Regions from separate parts of the Homo sapiens genome. Here region 1 is linked to region 2. The links come from fine-mapping of genetic effects on gene expression. A gene starts in region 2. The other region holds a variant in brackets. All regions are shown on one strand. Distances are from middle to middle.

What was found. PIP is the estimated chance that this variant, and not a neighbour inherited with it, causes the effect.
Region 1: its variant is fine-mapped to the expression of NUBP1 in whole blood (TOPMed, PIP 0.97).

What each region holds. Positions count from the first base shown.
Region 1 is chr16:10,764,079-10,772,405 of GRCh38, reverse strand. It overlaps NUBP1 (NUBP iron-sulfur cluster assembly factor 1, cytosolic), which reads right to left. Exons shown (of 11, transcript NM_002484.4): 10 at 4,374-4,457; 11 at 3,055-3,359. The coding sequence ends at 3,301. It overlaps TVP23A (trans-golgi network vesicle protein 23 homolog A), which reads left to right. Exons shown (of 8, transcript NM_001079512.4): 6 at 608-736; 7 at 2,075-2,134; 8 at 3,305-5,731. The coding sequence ends at 2,134. Among named protein-coding and RNA genes, the nearest start is that of NUBP1, 24 kb to the right of the region's middle. The variant T/C (reference allele first, on the strand shown) is at 3,299.
Region 2 is chr16:10,738,952-10,747,278 of GRCh38, reverse strand. NUBP1 (NUBP iron-sulfur cluster assembly factor 1, cytosolic) reads right to left here and starts at 3,437. Exons shown (of 11, transcript NM_002484.4): 1 at 3,397-3,437; 2 at 3,214-3,318; 3 at 3-136. The coding sequence starts at 3,415. RefSeq lists an enhancer at 3,579-3,628.

The sequences.
Region 1 (8,327 bases), 25 kb before region 2:
AGAGTGAGGCTCCGTCTTAAAAAAAATCAATAAATAGAGAAAACAAAATATTTGTAGATAGTAAAACAACAGTGTCATTTAATGAAAGTGCGGGCCCTGGAATTTGGATCCCGGCTCGACCACGCTCCAGCTCTGTGACCTTGGGCAGCTTTCGTCTTCCTGAGCCTCAGTTTCCTCTTTGTAAAATGGGATGATGATGGTGGCAACCTCTCCAGTTGTAATGATTCTGAGGTGTCCGTGGGTATTTGCAAATGCTCAGTAAATGTTGGCTGTTACTATTCTTAGGTGCAGGCTAGAGCATTTCTACGTGGCTTGAGAGGTGCATTTCTGTAAATGCTCTTAGAAAGTGACCTTTGCGTCAGATGGAGACCATCCTGGCTAACATGGTGAAACAGTGTCTCTACTAAAAATACAAAAAAATTAGCCAGGCCTGGTGGCGGACGCCTGTAGTCCCAGCTACTCGGGAGGCTGAGGCAGGAGAATGGTGTGAACCCGGGAGGCGGAACTTGCAGTGAGCTGAGATCGTGCCTCTGCACCCCAGCCTGGGCGACAGAGCGAAACTCTGTCTCAAAAAAAAGTGACCTTTGCTTTCTTTGTCTGAGTGCAGGCTCTGGTGGTTGCTGGGATCTCTCTCCAAGCTGCAAACCTGTATGGCTACATCCTTTGTAAGATGGGAGGCAACAGTGACATTGGCAAGGTCACAGCCAGTTTCCTGTCCCAGACAGTGTTCCAGACGGTGAGTAACTGAGGTCTGACTCTTGGACCACTCCTCTCCAGGTAGTCAAAGTCAAGGTGGCCTGCTGGCAACTGCGGTTTGTAATGTAACATATCCGCCAGGCTGCCAATGTTTTATTGTTTATATATTTTTTGGGAGACAGGATCTCGCTCTGTCACCCAGGCTAGAGTGCAATGGTGTGATCGCGGCCTATTGCAACCTCCATCTCTTGGGCTCAAGCGATCCTCCCACCTCAGCCTCTGGCACAGTTGGGACTACAGGTGTGTACCACCATGCCTGGCCTTTTTTTTTTGTAGAGACGAAGTTTTGCCATGTTGCCCAGGCTGCTCTAGAACTCCTGAGCTCAAGCAGCCCGCCTGCCTTGGCCTCCCAAAGTGCTGGGATTACAGCCATGAGTGAGCCACTGTGCCTGGCAGTTTTGTTTTTTAATTGTAAGATTTACATAAAATGTACCATTGTAACCATTTTAAAATGTATAGTTCTGTGGCATTAAGTATAACCACTTTATTGTGCAACCTTCACCCCACCCAGCTCCAGAACTGCTTTCATCTTGCAAAACTTAAGCTCAGTACCCACAAAACACTAACTCCCCCTCCTCCTCGCCTCCTAGCCCTAGCAACCAGCATTCTGCTTTCTGTATCTATTGGTTTGACAGCCCTAGGGACCTCCTATAAGTGCAATTATAGTTTTTGTCCTTTTGTGACTGCCATTGTTAGTTTTCAGTGATTTTTAAAAGTATAGAATTAAGGAAAGAGTCACAAACGGTTTTTCAATTTTTTTTTTTTTTTTTTTTTTTTTTTTGAGATGGGAGTCTCACTCTGCTCCCAGGCTGGAGTGCAATGGCATGTGTTGGCTCACTGCAACCTCCGGCTCCGGGTTCAAGTGATTCTCCTGCCTCAGCCTCCCAAGTAGCTGGGATTACAGGTGCATAACACCATGCCTGGCTAATTTTTGTATTTATAGTAGACGGGGTCTCTCCATGTTGACCAGGCTGGTCTCGAACTCCTTGCCTCAAGTGATCTACCAGCCTTGGCCTCCCAAAGTGCTAGGATTACAGGCGGGAGCTACCGTGCCCAGCTTGTTTTTGTTTTGTTTTTTTTTTTTAACTTAATAGATATTTCTAAAAGTGAGAGACAGAAGTCTTTGAAATTTGACCAGGTTCATCCTGAAATGGGTAGAACCGTCCTAAATTTGAACAGCACTGCTTTATGCCAAGACATCAAGCAACCAATTCCGCAGGTTTTCTGTACTTTGTGGGTTTTCTCTGGCCTTCCATCAGCAGGATCGCCCCACTCGCGTGTAAGGACAGAAAACCATGGTTGACTTTTCCCCTTGCAGGCCTGCCCAGGTGACTTTCAGAAGCCTGGCCTCGAGGGGCTGGAGATTCACCAGCATTAGGTGAGAAATGGATCATGGCACCCGTGTGGAGGAACTGGGGAATTCTGAAAAATGCAGCTCTTGGGGCACAGGGGCCCGGGGTCTGGGTGGGCTTCCCCTGTTCCCTGGGGTGGCCAGGCATGTGACCAGGCAGGAAGCAGACTGGGCAATGGGCCTGCCCTGGGCTTTGCAGCCTCATTGCTCTTGGCGTGAGGAGCTGGGGGTCGGGGGGCGAGGTCACACCTTCCTCACACTGAACATGTGCAAATCTGATCATATGTATGGTCCTAGGGAAGGGCGGGGAGGGAAGAGACAAGGGAGGGAAAGAACAAGGGGATTTGTTCTTGTTTCCCACCCACCCACTTTTATGCCCCAGAGTGGAGGGAAAACAGGAATTTACTCTTCTCCCACGTGGTCTCAGATCCTGTGTGTCTCAAACAGAGCAAGCACCTCATGGCAAAGAGGATGATCGTAGAGTTTACATCTGTCCCTCTTTTTTATATAATTAAAAAACCTGAAAGTTGGTTTGCATGACACTGGACATTACTGGATATACTGTGCACATATTACTACACAGGGAATTTACACAGACCCCACATTCTGTCTTACTGGGTGATTCAAGGACTCTTCAAGGGCTTTTTGATTTGACCCAGCTGTGTCATATGCAGTGATTTTAGAACGAAGCCCAGCCTGAGCTCTGTTGCTTTTAGATTTTTCCTCAATCTGAAGAAAAGCGTTTGGACTGTGGTGTTTGAAAACAAGCCTGTGTGTTCTGCAGTGAAGCCGCACACTCACCCCTTTGGTTCTTTTCTAGGCTTTCTTATCTTCACAGGCAGAAATGGCTTAAACGGGAGTTTCTACAATCGACTAAGCTTCCGACACAGCAGAATCCCACGATCCCACAACCCATTTGTTTTTTACGTGAAACAGGCCTCGGGGGAGAGATTTGAGGGGGTTTTATTCTTAAAACGGCACATTTGTAGAGAATGCCCTTTATATATGTTCTAAAGAAAAGTGTACAAATACTCAATGATTAAAGTGTCTCTGAGAAAGTGGCTTCGGACCACACCAGCATCTGGTCCTTTTGCTGTGACCCACCCCATCCCGGAGCTGGTCGGGTCTGGCTGGATGTGCTGCCCAGTGAGTGCCTCGCTCGGTAACTGCTTGGTCCTGAACATTCTCTCG[T/C]TTCAGGAACTGATGAGGTTCTCTTCTTTTGACTGATGGAGATTACAAAACTCTTGGATTCCTGGAAAACAAGACGACAGGCATAGAGTGCTAATGGCTTGTCTACCCCTTGACAGCCCTGTCCTGTGCTGGGGAGGGCTGTGTTTTGACAGGGGTGGAATCCTCTGGCTAGTTCCATAAAAAGACCTGTGTCTGTGATGCCCTGAGTCTTTGAAAGTGACCGGAATACCTCACACTACCCATCTTGCTCATAACCAGTGGCTGCGGCCTTCCTCGGACCATCTATAGATGGAGGATTCTGGGAATGCTGTTTCCTTACCCTTGACATCATTCTTCTAGGCAAGTAAAACCCAGCCACAAACTCAGAGACCACAGCTTTAACAAACACTGACACCTCTGCCCTAACTCTGGGGCCTCTGATGGCTGCCACTGGCTGAATGTGGCCTGCACGTGGGTTTGGTCTGGCTCAACAAAGTTTTTATTTTTATTTTTTATTTTTTTGAGACACGGTCTCACGCTGTTGCCCAGGCTGGAGTGCAGTGGCGCGATCTCGCCTTACTGCAGCCTCCGCCTCCCAGGTTCAAGCGATTCTCCTGCCTCAGCCTCCTGAGTAGCTGGGACTACAGGCATGCGCCACCACACCCGGCTAATTTTCATATTTTTAGTAGAGACAGTGTTTCTCCATGTTAGCCAGGCTGGTCTTGAACTCCTGACCAGCCTCAAGTGATCTGCCTGCCTCCTTCACCCAAAGTGCTGGGATTCCAGGTGTGAGCCACTGCACCTGGCCTTTTTTTTTTTTATCAGTTACTTTTAAAAATGAATTACTTTATCCCTTTATTGGGATGTATTTCCTAAGCCATAAATTTCACCCTCACCATGTTTTTTAAACTATGAATTAATTCACAATACTCACACATTGAGAGATTTCTCATGGACTCCTGGCTTCCTCGGCTATGGGGGCCACTCTGTGGTCATCACAGACCCCACCACCCACCTGTCCTTCCACACCCCTGGCTCCTTTATGTTGCTTCCTGCCCCACAGGCATCTGCATTTAGTACTCATGGAAATACTTACTCTGAATTATACTTCTGTAGGCTAACGTGGCTGGGGAATCTGGGGCGTCAATGAAAAAAGACTGGCCTTTGTCACAATTCTTACCTTAAAAAAGAAACAAACGGAAGACAATTCAGTCCAAGAGGAAAACAGAATGGCCACAAGATCTTGGGGCTCTTTCCGTGCTGGTGACAATGGGAAGATCTTGAGCCCGCTTCACTCGTAATGAAGAACAAAGTAGAAAAGACCAGTGGGGTCTCAGGGACCTTCCTTCCAGCAGGGTCCCCAGCCAGCATTTCAGCGTGGCTAAATAATCAGGTGGTGTACAGAAAATGCAGGTTCCAGGGCCCTACAGAGAACTGATTCAGCAGCTTCCACATGGGCCCAGGAGTCTGCATTTTAAGAGATTAGCTTTTGAGTGAAAGGATCATGAATGCACATGGTTAAAAAAAGTACAGAATGCAAAAGGATATGGCATAAAAGGCCAAGTCCGAAAAGGGCTACTAGTGTTCTAGGTGTCTTTCCAGAAAGATTATGCGCATATAAATGTGCACACTTGCATGTGTGCGCACACACATACACACACTCTCATATACCTAAAATACGAATGGGAGCACATGACACACACATTCTGCCTGCTGCTTTGTCTGTGTATAATTTTATCTTCCAGGTCATCTGTGCTGGTGTCTATCAGTCTGCTAGTCTTTCCCCGCCATGTGGCCATTGTTCCAGTCCCCTCCTATGCACACCCAGGTTTCTCTAGGACCATGTTATCCCAGAGCCAGGTGGACAGGACACAAGGGGCTAGGGGTCAATGGGGGTGTTCTCGCCTCCAGTCTGCCCTGCCAGCCCCCAGTCGTGGGTGGACCTGCCATCAGCTTGCTCTGCCCACTCCCCAGGCCTGAGCTGCTGGCGAAACAGGCAAGTGACTGCACTGCCCATGGCCGGTCACCAGCCTCAGGTGAACCCCAGGAGGGGTTCCTACCTAGCACTCATCATTTCCTCAACTTCACTACTGTGTCGCCCTGTGGGACAGGGAAGTCCAAGTCGGGGAAGAAGCCTGTGGGGAGGGGTTGGTGGGAGATGGGGAGCCCATATGGCCCAGTGAGTCAGGAAAATAGGGTCCAGAGGCAGGGAACATAAGGCCAATTCGCACTTGAGCCATAACAGGAAATGTCCTCTCCATAGGACGTATGCCGTAAATGACTTTGTAACTTTACTTCATCCTTTTCGTTTATATAGGGCGTACCTCAAGTAGAGGGTATTTAAACACAAAAACTCTGTAATGGGGCCTTTGAGCCCCTATTCTCAGGCCCGTTCTCCTCCCACACCGTGGAGTTGACTTTCATTTTCAATAAATCCCTTCCTTCCTTCCTTTCTTTGTGCGTTTTGTCCAATTTTTTGTTCCAGACACCAAGAACCTGGACATCCTCCGCCGTTAACGCTGGGCCCATGAGACCATGTGGAACTCGCTAGGGAGGCCCCTGAGTGCACGTTCGCTGGGCCAGACCTGGGAGGTTGGGGATCCCAGAATAGTCATGCTGGGGCTACTTTCTGTCCCTGACTTTCACCCAGGTCTCCCTTCCCCAGAGGGCTCCCCAGCCCCCAACACACATATATGCTCTAGTGTTTTCCCTTCCTAACTGCATTTCCCCCTGGGCTCCCACCTCTCCAAGAACGGGCAGCATTATCAGAACAGCTGGTGTGAGCACAGCCCTGTTCCAAGAGATCCCAGGCATCCTCTCACCCCACCCTGGCAGATCCCTCTCACTAGGCACCACTGTCACCTGCATTTTACACACGGGGCCATCGAGGCTGAGAGCGGAAATGACTAGCCCAAGTCCCACAGCTAGTGGTGGCGGAGCAGGGCTCTGAGGCCAGCCCTTCCTGTGATCCTCAGCACACCGGGACCAGGACCCATAGCACCAGAGCGCTGGCATCTGTAACTCTTTGCCACCATGTCCCCAGAGGAGACTGAAGTGCTGTCCTCATGCCTTCCTGTCTGTTCCTAGGAAGGTGGGTTTTCCCCCACTCTGTCCCCAGTGACCTTGCCAGATGCGTGTCTGTCACTTGGCCCTCATGCTCCACCCTCTTGGGTGGGTGACAGTGTTAACCACCCCTTCCTTTCTGGCACTCCCTGGCCTTGCTATCTGTGGCTTCCCCTCAAGGTGAGCTTCTGCAATGTGCCATTTGACACACAGGACCATGCCCACTAGAAGGCACTTAATGTTCTCAGCTCAGAATGAGCCTCGCAGCTGTCACTGGTGGCTCCTCTGCTTTGAAATTAGCTCTTGTGAACCACCTGGAACTTTGTTTCTTTGTGAAAAGTGGCCCTGAAAGGAAAGACCAGGGCCAATGCCAGGGCTTGGTGTGAGGGAGGTGGGAAGATGGAGGTTGCTGGCTCTTTGGAAGAAAAGCCGTATCAGGATCTAATAGCCCCAAGGTCACTTCCTGATCTGTCAGACAATGGCAAGGGCAGGCCTGTGGCTGGGCCCGTGGACATATTTGGGTGGGTCAGCAAGCATGCCATTTTTAAATTTTTTTTTGAGACAGGTTCTTGCTCTGTCGCCCAGGCTGGAGTGCAGTGGTGTGATCATGGCTCACTGCAACCTCAACCTCCCTGGGCTCAAGTGATCCTGCTAACTCAGCCTCCTGAGTAGCTGGGACCACAGGCACATGCCACCACACTGGGTGAATTTTTTCCTTTTTTTTTTTTTTTTTTTTTTAAGAGATGAGGTATCTTCCTGTGTTACCCAGGCTAGAGCATGGTTGTGTGTGTGTGTGTGTGTGTATTTAATGGAGTTAGTTGCTATCATTTAGTATCAGGAGACTTTGGGTAAGGATATAGATTTCTAGCTCTTCATTAAACCTTGGAAAATGTGGCAATTGTGATGGCCATAAGGACACACCTCTTGGATCTCTGGCAGCAGCTGCCATGCTCCAAAATCCACCACCACGTTTGTGTTGAGGCAATGCCACTCCCAGGCTGCTCCTAGCTAGTGACTGAGACGAGCATGGCACTCGGGCAGGCACGCTTCTGGGAGATGCAGCCCCTCTGATGGGTAAGTGGGCTCAGGAATGCCCTGGTGGCTGTGCCCAGCTTTCCTCGACAGCAGCCAAGACACTCCAGCAGACAGATGCTCCAACAGACTGACATACTCCAGCAGACTGAGATGCTCCAACAGACTGACATACTCCAGCAGACAGATGCTCCAACAGACTGACATACTCCAGCAGACTGAGATGCTCCAACAGACTGACATACTCCAGCAGACTGAGATGCTCCAACAGACTGACATACTCCAGCAGACTGAGATGCTCCAACAGACTGACATACTCCAGCAGACTGAGATGCTCCAATAGACCTACTCCAGCAGACTGAGATGCTCCAATAGACTGACATACTCCAGCAGACTGAGATGCTCCAATAGACTGACATACTCCAGCAGACTGAGATGCTCCAATAGACTGACATACTCCAGCAGACTGAGATGCTCCAATAGACAAATACTCCAGCAGAATGAGATGCTCCAATAGACAAATACTCCAGCAGACTGAGATGCTCCAATAGACTGACATACTCCAGCAGACTGAGATGCTCCAACACACTGGCATACTCCAGCAGACTGAGATTCTCCAATAGACAAATACTCCAGCAGACTGAGATGCTCCAACAGACTGGCATACTCCAGCAGACTGAGATGCTCCAATAGACTGCCACACTCCAGCAGACTGAGATGCTCCAATAGACAAATACTCCAGCAGACTGAGATGCCAAAAAGCAAAGTACACTGAGGTGCTCCAGCAGGCTAAGATGCTCCCATGGGCTGAGATGCTCCAGTGGGCTGAGACGCTCCTTCGGGCTGGGATGCTCCCGTGGGCTGAGATACTCCTGTGGGCTGAGATGCTCCTTTGAGTTGGGATGCTCCCGTGGGCTGAGATACTCCTGTGGGCTGAGATACTCCCTTGGGCTGG
Region 2 (8,327 bases):
ACCTGTGTGTTTTCATCCTCTGCTAGGCCATGGGCAAGGTGGGCGCTGAATGTGCTTTTCCCAACACCGCCTTTCCCAGACAATACCAAGATTTTGTGTTTTACAGTCTTCATTTTCTCTTTGATTTCCTCTATAGCTGCAAAGAAAACCAAAGTTCAGGGGATGAGGTCCCACACCAAACCTCGAATGTCACGCTTCCAGTCAACTAGAAAGAGCTAAGTCCTAGTCCTAGTACTAGTCCTGGGGCTGTTTAAAACGATCCTCTGAAATACCTCTCAGACAATGGTAGAAATAAGTGCTAGGAAGAAAATAAGGCTATTATCACACTTGAAGGGGTCTCATTTATTGGTTTACACGTTTGTCTCCCCCAACTAGAACATAGTCTCCACAAAGGTAGGAACTGTCTGAAGCTTTCAGTGCTGTATTCCCAGCTCCAGAAGAGAACTTTGCAAACAGCAATGGTCACCAACTTGGGGACAAAATCCCCCAGAGACATTTGGTAATGTCTGGAGACACTGTTCTTTCTTTCTTTTTTTTTTGAGACAGAGTGTTGCTCTGTCGCCCAGGATGGAGTGCAGTGGCGTGATCTCGGCTCACTGCAACACTGCCTCCTGGGTTCAAGCGATTCTCCTGCCTTAGCCTCCCAAGTAGCTGGGATTACAGGTGCCTGCCACCATGCCTGGCTAATTTTTGTATTTTTAATAGAGACGGTGTTTCTCTATGTTGGCCAGGCTAGTCTCGAACTTCCAACCTCAAGTGATCCACCCACCTTGGCCTCCCAAAGTGTTGGAATTACAGGTGTGAGCCACCATGCTCAGCCTGGAGACACTTTTCATTGTCACAGGAGAGGTACTGCTGGCATTTAATGGGTACAGCCCAGATTGTGCTAAATGTCCTACAATGCACAGGACAGCCCCCCACAACAAAGAGTGATCCTGCCCCAAATGTCAGCAGTGCTGAGGTTGAGAAACTCTGATAGACAGCAGGCACATACTAAGTATCTGCCAATGAAACTATCTTATTTCAAATCCTTAAAACAATACACGAGGTATAAAGGAAATTAAAAAGTCTCATGACTGGCCAAACTCAAGTGAAAGTTAAGCCTGGAAACCTCCCAACACTGCTGTCCTCCTCCCCATCAACAGACAGCTGTTACTTCCCAACCTTGTGTCAAAGCATTCTACATTAACCAGACACCTGCAAAAGGCCAAAGGCCCCATGCAATCCATTGTGGGATGACTGCCCTCACAAGTTGCTCCTAAGGAACTCCTTTGCTGGCCCCTAAATCTTTGAAGATGAGTATCCTCCCATAAACAAGGACATGCCAACTGTAACTTTAGGACTGTAACCTCAGTCTAACTCCTTCCCTATTACTGATGTCTGTTAAACGCCACACTGACCATGTCCATTACAAGCTTATCCTCCCACATGCCAAACAAAGATGGGATGAGATAGTCCTTCCTCTCCTACCCTGAGACGTCTGCCTAATTAATTCTTCCTTTATTCCCTCTTTTGAATGTTTACTTTATTTTCTGAATAGTGTAGATATACTGGGCACGAATTAAAACCTCACAAGAATGTAACTACCTGCCACGAGGCCTACTGCACTTTTTCCTGCATGCTTTTTCCCCTTTTAATGAAATATATAAACACCAGCCTTCTGGAACCACTCCATCGAGCACAGGCCACAGATGTTTCTGTCACTTGTATTTTCCAGGGCACGCCCTCAAGCTCTGGCCCAATAAACCTCCACTGAGGCTCAGTTCAGTCTCTCCATTGCATTGACAGAGATAACTATTTTTCTCTTCATTTTTTTTTTTCTTTGAGACAGGGTCTCACTCTGTCACCCAGGCTGGAGTGCAGTGGCACGATCTCAGCTCACTGCAACCTCCACCTCCCGGGTTCAAGTGATCCTCCCACCTCAGCCTCGAGGGCGGGCATGCACCACCATGCTGGCTAATTTTTGTATTTTTAGTAGAGACAGGTTTCACCATGTTGGCCAGGCTGGTCTCGAACTCCTGACCTCAAGTGATCCATCCACCCGCCTCGGCCTCCCAAAGTGCTGGGATTACAGGCGTGAGCCACTGCACCCGGCCTGTCTCCATTTTTGATGAGGAACCAGAAGCTCAGAGAGGTTAGGACTATTGCTGAAGGTCACACCGCATGGATCCAAGAATCAAATCCAAGTCTCTCTCTGAACTCCTTCAAGATTCTCCCCCTTGGCCAGGTGCAGTGGCTCATGCCTGTAATCCCAGCACTTTGGGAGGCCCAGGCAGATGCATCACTTGAGGTCAGGAGTTCGAGACCAACCTGGTCAACATGGTGAAACTCTGGTTCTACTAAAAATATAAAAATTAGCCAGCCGTGGTGGCAGGCGCCTGTAGTCCCAGGTACTCGGGAGACTGAGGCACGAGAATCGCTTGAACCTGAGAGGTGAAAGTTGCAGTGAGCCGAGATCACACCACTGCACTCTGGTCTGGGCTACACAGCAAGACTCTGTCTAAAAAAAAAGGGGGAAAAAAAAGAAAAAAAAATATTGTCCTCCTGCCTCCTGCTTTTTAAGGTCCTTCTGAGCAGGCTCCCTGGGTCCTCTCATCCTGGAATCTGTGCTTCACAGCACTTAAAGCTGCGGTGGTTTAGTTGCTAGCTCACGTGTTTGTTTCCCCAGTAAAGCTAAACTCCACTAGAGCAGTGACCACGCCTGATCCCCAGCTGTGTCCCCAGGACAGCACCAAACCTACGAGGCGATCAACACATTTCTGCTGAATGAGTGGGAGAATCACTCCTCAAAAGGAAGAAAATTGTGTCAAGAAAGTAGCTGGCAGAGCCAGGATGTAAGTCCGAAGACTCCCCGACTTCGAAGCTTATCCCGTTTTTCTCTGCGGTCTGTTATTGTCACTCAAACCTCTGGCCCCGACCCTCTTAATTAATGTCCCTTTCGACTCCGCGCCGGTCAGTCTCCACCCTCCATCCGCGCCAGGTCCTTCGCGCTCGCCTTCTAAAGGCCTCGTTCCTGTCAGTCATTCCAAGCTCCGCCCTCACCCTGCCCACTTTCCACGCCCCGCCCCTTCTGGGCCCCACCCCTCTCCGAATACAATACCTTCTAGCCTGCCGCTGTCAGTCATTCTGCAGATCCCGCCCCCTCCCTCCCACGCCCCGCCTTTTCCGGGCCTGCGCCTCTAAGTTCCTGTTGAGGCCTTGCCCTTTTCTCACCCGTGTCCGGAGTGGCCCCCGCTCCAGAAGCGCACAGCCGCTGGTTGGGGCATCCCTGACATGAAGCCCCTCTGCCCGCCTGGGCGCTGTCGGCCCCTGGACAGTCTGCGCAGAGACAAGACCACAGTTAGAGCAGCTCCCGACACTTTCGCCCCGCGACCCACGCCCCCTCCGCGAGCTTACCGTGAGGCACCTCCTCCATTCCGTCGCCTTTGCCGCCTTCGTGGTCACCGGAACCCGCTGTCGTACATTTCCGCCTTGTGGGCACAATCTGATTCTCCGACCGCGCGAAATAAGTCTCGGAAAGGGGGCTGTGCGCACGCGCGAACCTTGGGCCGAAAGACTGGGACTCAACGTCTGTTCCTTTTCAGAGATTTCCTATCATAAATACTTCTGCAGTGCATCTCCTAAGAACAAAGCCATTCTTCATGACATCAGTGCCATTTTCATACCCAAGAGATTTAATATCGATGCAGTACTAGCCAATGCAGTATTAGCCAATAGACAGTTTATATTTCAATTTCAGTTGTTAGACCCCCTCCCCTGCTGGATTCACTCACTGCCTGGAGTTATTTCTCTTCGGTCTCCTTTAATTCAGATCAGTCCTTCTTTTTTTAGGGGGGGTCTCATCACCTTGATAATTTTGACGGGTCCAGACCAGTTGTGTAATAGAATATCCCATATTCTTGATTTGTCTAATCCTCCCCTCCCTCTTGCCTTGTAATTAGATAAAGGTTAATTTTTCTTTTTTCCTGCAGAACACACTTGGATAATGTCAGTTTGTCCCGTTTTTGGTAATGTGAAGCTTGATCGCTTGCTAAAGGTGGTGTCTGCCCCATTTCTCCATTTAATGTTTCCTTCTTCCATTTGTAATTAACAGGTACTCTCTGGGACCATCTTCTTCTCTATCAGCCTTTCACTCAGTGATTTTAGCAGCATTTATATATATATATATAAAACTATAGATTATATATATGATAAATATATATCAGTTTTATACCCTCTCTTTTTTTCTTTTTTTTCGAAGACTCACTATGGATTCCTGGATTTTTTAAAATTGTCTTTTATAATCAATTATTATTCTTTCTGGTCGATTTTTTTTCCCCCAGATGTGGCCAGTGAAGCCCCTTCAAGACAGTTCTTATGTTCTTTGGGCACTAATCCAGCTTCTTTGAGCATTTTCTTGCTTTCTGATACAAGATGTTTCAGTCATCCCTTCTCCCTGCTGCAGTCATTTCTTCAGGGAGCCTTGGTTACTTTTTAGCAGACAACAGTTCAGAAACCAAGATGTGGATGCCACAAATGCTCATTGCTACTGGAGTGTCATTGCTCACAGGTTTGGCACCTGGAATATTAATGAGTGAACAAACTTTACCTAGCCCCAGACACTAAGAATATGGAAACGTTTATTTATTTATTTATTTTTGAGGCGGATTCTCGCTCTGTCACCCAGGCTGGAGTGCAGTGGTGGGATCTCGGCTCACTGCAAGCTCCGCCTTCTGGGTTCACGTCATTCTCCTGCCTCAGCCACCCGAGTAGCTGAGACTACAGGCCACCACGCCCGGCTAATTTTTTGTATTTTTAGTAGAGACAGGGTTTCACCATGTTAGCCAGAATGGTCTCGATCTCCTGACCTCGTGATCTGCCCGCCTTGGCCTCCCAAAGTGTTGGGATTACAGGCATGAGCCACCGCACCCGGCCTCGGAAACATTTATTAAACAGCAGTGTATCAGCTGCCTGTCACTACCACTAATTATAGCCAGCATTTTGTAGAATACTTACCGTTTGGCAGCTGTCATCTTTGTGCTTTCATGTGAATTACCTAATTTATGTCCTTTCATAGTCCTACTGTCTCCATTTTTGGATAAGGAAACTGAGGCTTAAAGTAAACTACTTTCCCGAGGTCGCATGACTGGTAGCAGGGGAACCAGGGTGATAAACTTGGTCTGTCTGGCTGCAGAGCCTGCACTTAGTAACACATGGTCCCAGCCAGCACTGGGCTAGATGCCAATGATTCCAGACTAACCTGGACCCTGCCATCTGGAGCACAGTCTGGTCGGGAGAAGAGGACCAGAGTGATGGGGCATCAGCAAAGGCCTGGAGAGCAGAGAGGAAGTCACCTATCAGGTAGGGACTGTTGTCATTTCCGTTTTACAGGTGATAAGATGGCTGCAAAGATTTACTTGTCCACAGTCTGAGAGGCAGAAAGAGCAGAACTGGGTTTTTAACCAAGTCTGATACAGGGCCTTTGCTATTAATCACTATACTGTATATTAGAGGGCAGGATGCAAGTTATTCTCCTTTTTATTTTTATTTTTGTGGGATGGAATCTCACTCTGTTGCTCATGCTGGAGTGCAGTGGTGTGATCTTGGCTTACTGCAACCTCCACCTCCCGGGTTCAAGCAATTCTCCTGTGTCAGCCTCCTGAGTAGCTGGGACTACAGGTGCCCACCACCACGCCTGGCTAATTTTTTGTATTTTTGGTAGAGACGGGGTTTTACCATGTAGGCCTGGCTGGTCTCGAACTCCTGACCTCAGGTGATCCACCCGCCTCAGCCTACCAAAGTGCTAGGATTACAGGTGTGAGCCACCGCGCCTGGCCAGGGCCGCTTCTTAAGGTGAGTGCTCCCCAAGACTCTGTTCTTGGGCCACTTCCAGTCCCACTTCCCACTTCCTCCTGGGCAAGCAACTGACAGCCCTGATGCTATCCATCTTCTGTCTCCAGCTCCCACACCTCTTGCTCCGTGAGTTCGGATCTGTGGATCCTACCTTGTGCCTATTGGATTTTATTGCATGGACATCCCACAAGCGTAACAAATAAACGTCTACAACTTCTTCTCAAGGCGGTTCCTGCCTCTGGATTTGTTATACCTGGACAGGGCATGACCCCTGGGCTAAGAACTCAAGCCGTAAATCTGAGTATCAGCCTTGTTTAGTTTTCTCCATCTCCATCAGTGATCAAGTGCTGTGTGACAAGTCACCCCAATATGTAGTGGTTTAAACCCACCATGGTTTATTGCTTCCTGTGACTCTTCTGGTTTCACCTGGGCTCCCTTAATGTGGCTTCATTCAGCTGGGAGTTGGCTGGAAGGTCTCAAATGGCTTCACTCTCACACTGGCCTTGATTCCCCCCTCGTGGCCTCCCTCTCTCATTTTTCAGTGGTCTAGCCTGTGTCCCTTTAAATGGCAGCTGGGAATGACAAAGCTGGGAAGTGGCAGTCACTTTCACCATGTTCTCTCGGTCAAAGTGTCACAGACACAGACTCCTCTTGTTGATTAGTGGGGTGGCGTACCTATACAGGGATGGGGGTCAGTGTTGTCCATAGAGACGCCCACAGCACCCCCTGCATCCAATCAGACATCAGGTCAGCAGCTGCACCCCTAGGTGGTAGGCTGGTAGCACACATGACCCCACTTCTCTCCCTGTCTGGATCTGTGCCCTTGGCTGCTGAACTTTGCAGTGCCCTCCCACGTGCGGGGAGGGGGTTCCATCCTACCCCTTGACTCTGTGCTCAGGCATGTGACTTACTTTAGCAAATGTGATTCAAGAAAAAGCTTGTAATGGGGCTTTTGCCTGTTTTAATCCCTCTCCAGCTCCCCTGCCACTTAAAGGTACACAGGCTAGGAGAAGGTCTGGGCTCGCCCATGGGAGGTGAAACACCTGGAACTGAGCTGAGCCACCCCTGTGCTCTCAGTGAAGGCCTCCTAAACCAGCGGCCCAAGACACATGAGAAGAGTCCAGCCAAGAGCTGCAGATCCACCCACCCAGACCCACAGATCCACCCATCCAGACCCACAGATCCACCCACCCAGACCCACAGATCCACCCATCCAGACCCACTGATCCACCCATCCAGACCCACAGATCCACCCATCCAGACCCACCGATCCACACATCCAGACACACAGATCCACCCATCCAGACCCACCGATCCACACATCCAGACCCACAGATCCACCCATCCAGACCCACAACTGGCCATAGATGCGTGAGTCCTGAAGAACCACCTGGCCAATGCACAGGCTGGTGAACTAGCTAAATGCTGGTGGTTTGACACTGTTGAGTTTGGGGTAGCTATAGACAACTGACACTCCATGCCTTCCAGCATCCCTCCTGCCTCAGCTCAGGCCCCCTCCTCCTCCTGGTCCTGCAACAGTGTCTGTTTCAGCCAGGATAGGCTAGTCTGCGCTGCCAAAACAGACATCCCCAAACTGAAGTGGCTCAAGGCAATCAAGTTTATTTTGGCATTTGCTCCATATGTAACTTCATGGACAGAGGTTCCTGCTCCCTGTGGTTCCTCAGGGACACAGACTGAAGCTCCACCGTCTCCTGTGGCCCCTTTTGAACACAGAGGACACAAGCCAGGGGAATTGTACCCTGATTCTGAAATGCTTCCACTAGAAATGACACCTATCTGCCCACTTTTCATTGGCTACAATTAGTCACACACGTCAGGTGCAGTGGCTCACACCTGTAATCCCAGCATTTTAGGAGGCCAAGGCAGGAGGATTGCTTGAGGCCAGGAGTTGGAGAACAGCATAGTGAGACCCTGTCTCTACAAAAAATTTAAAAATTAACTGGGCAAGGTGGTGCATGCCTGTAGTCCCAGCTACTTGGGAGGCCGAGGCAGGACGATTGCTGGAGTTGGAGGCTGCAATGAGCTGTTATCACAGTACTGCCCTCCAGCCTGGGCAGCAGAGTGACACCTTGTCTAAAAAAAAAAAAAAAAAAAAAAAAAAGGCCAGGCGCGATGGCTCACGCCTGTAATCCCAGCACTTTGGGAGGCCGAGGCGGGTGGATCACCAGGTCAGGTGTTCAAGACCAGTCTGGCCAACATAGCGAAACCCTGTCTCTACTAAAAATACACAAAAAATTAGCTGGGTGTGGTGGTGTGCGCCTATAATCCCAGCTACTCAGGAGGCTGAGGCAGGAGAATTGCATGAACCCGGGAGGCAGAGGTTGCAGTGAGCCAAGATTGTGCCACTGCACTCCAGCCTGAGTGACAGAATGAGACTCTGTCTCAGAAAAAAAAAAAAAAGGTTGGGCGTGATGACTCATGCCTGTAACCCAGCACTTTGGGAGGCCGAGGCGGTTGGATCACTAGAGGTCAGG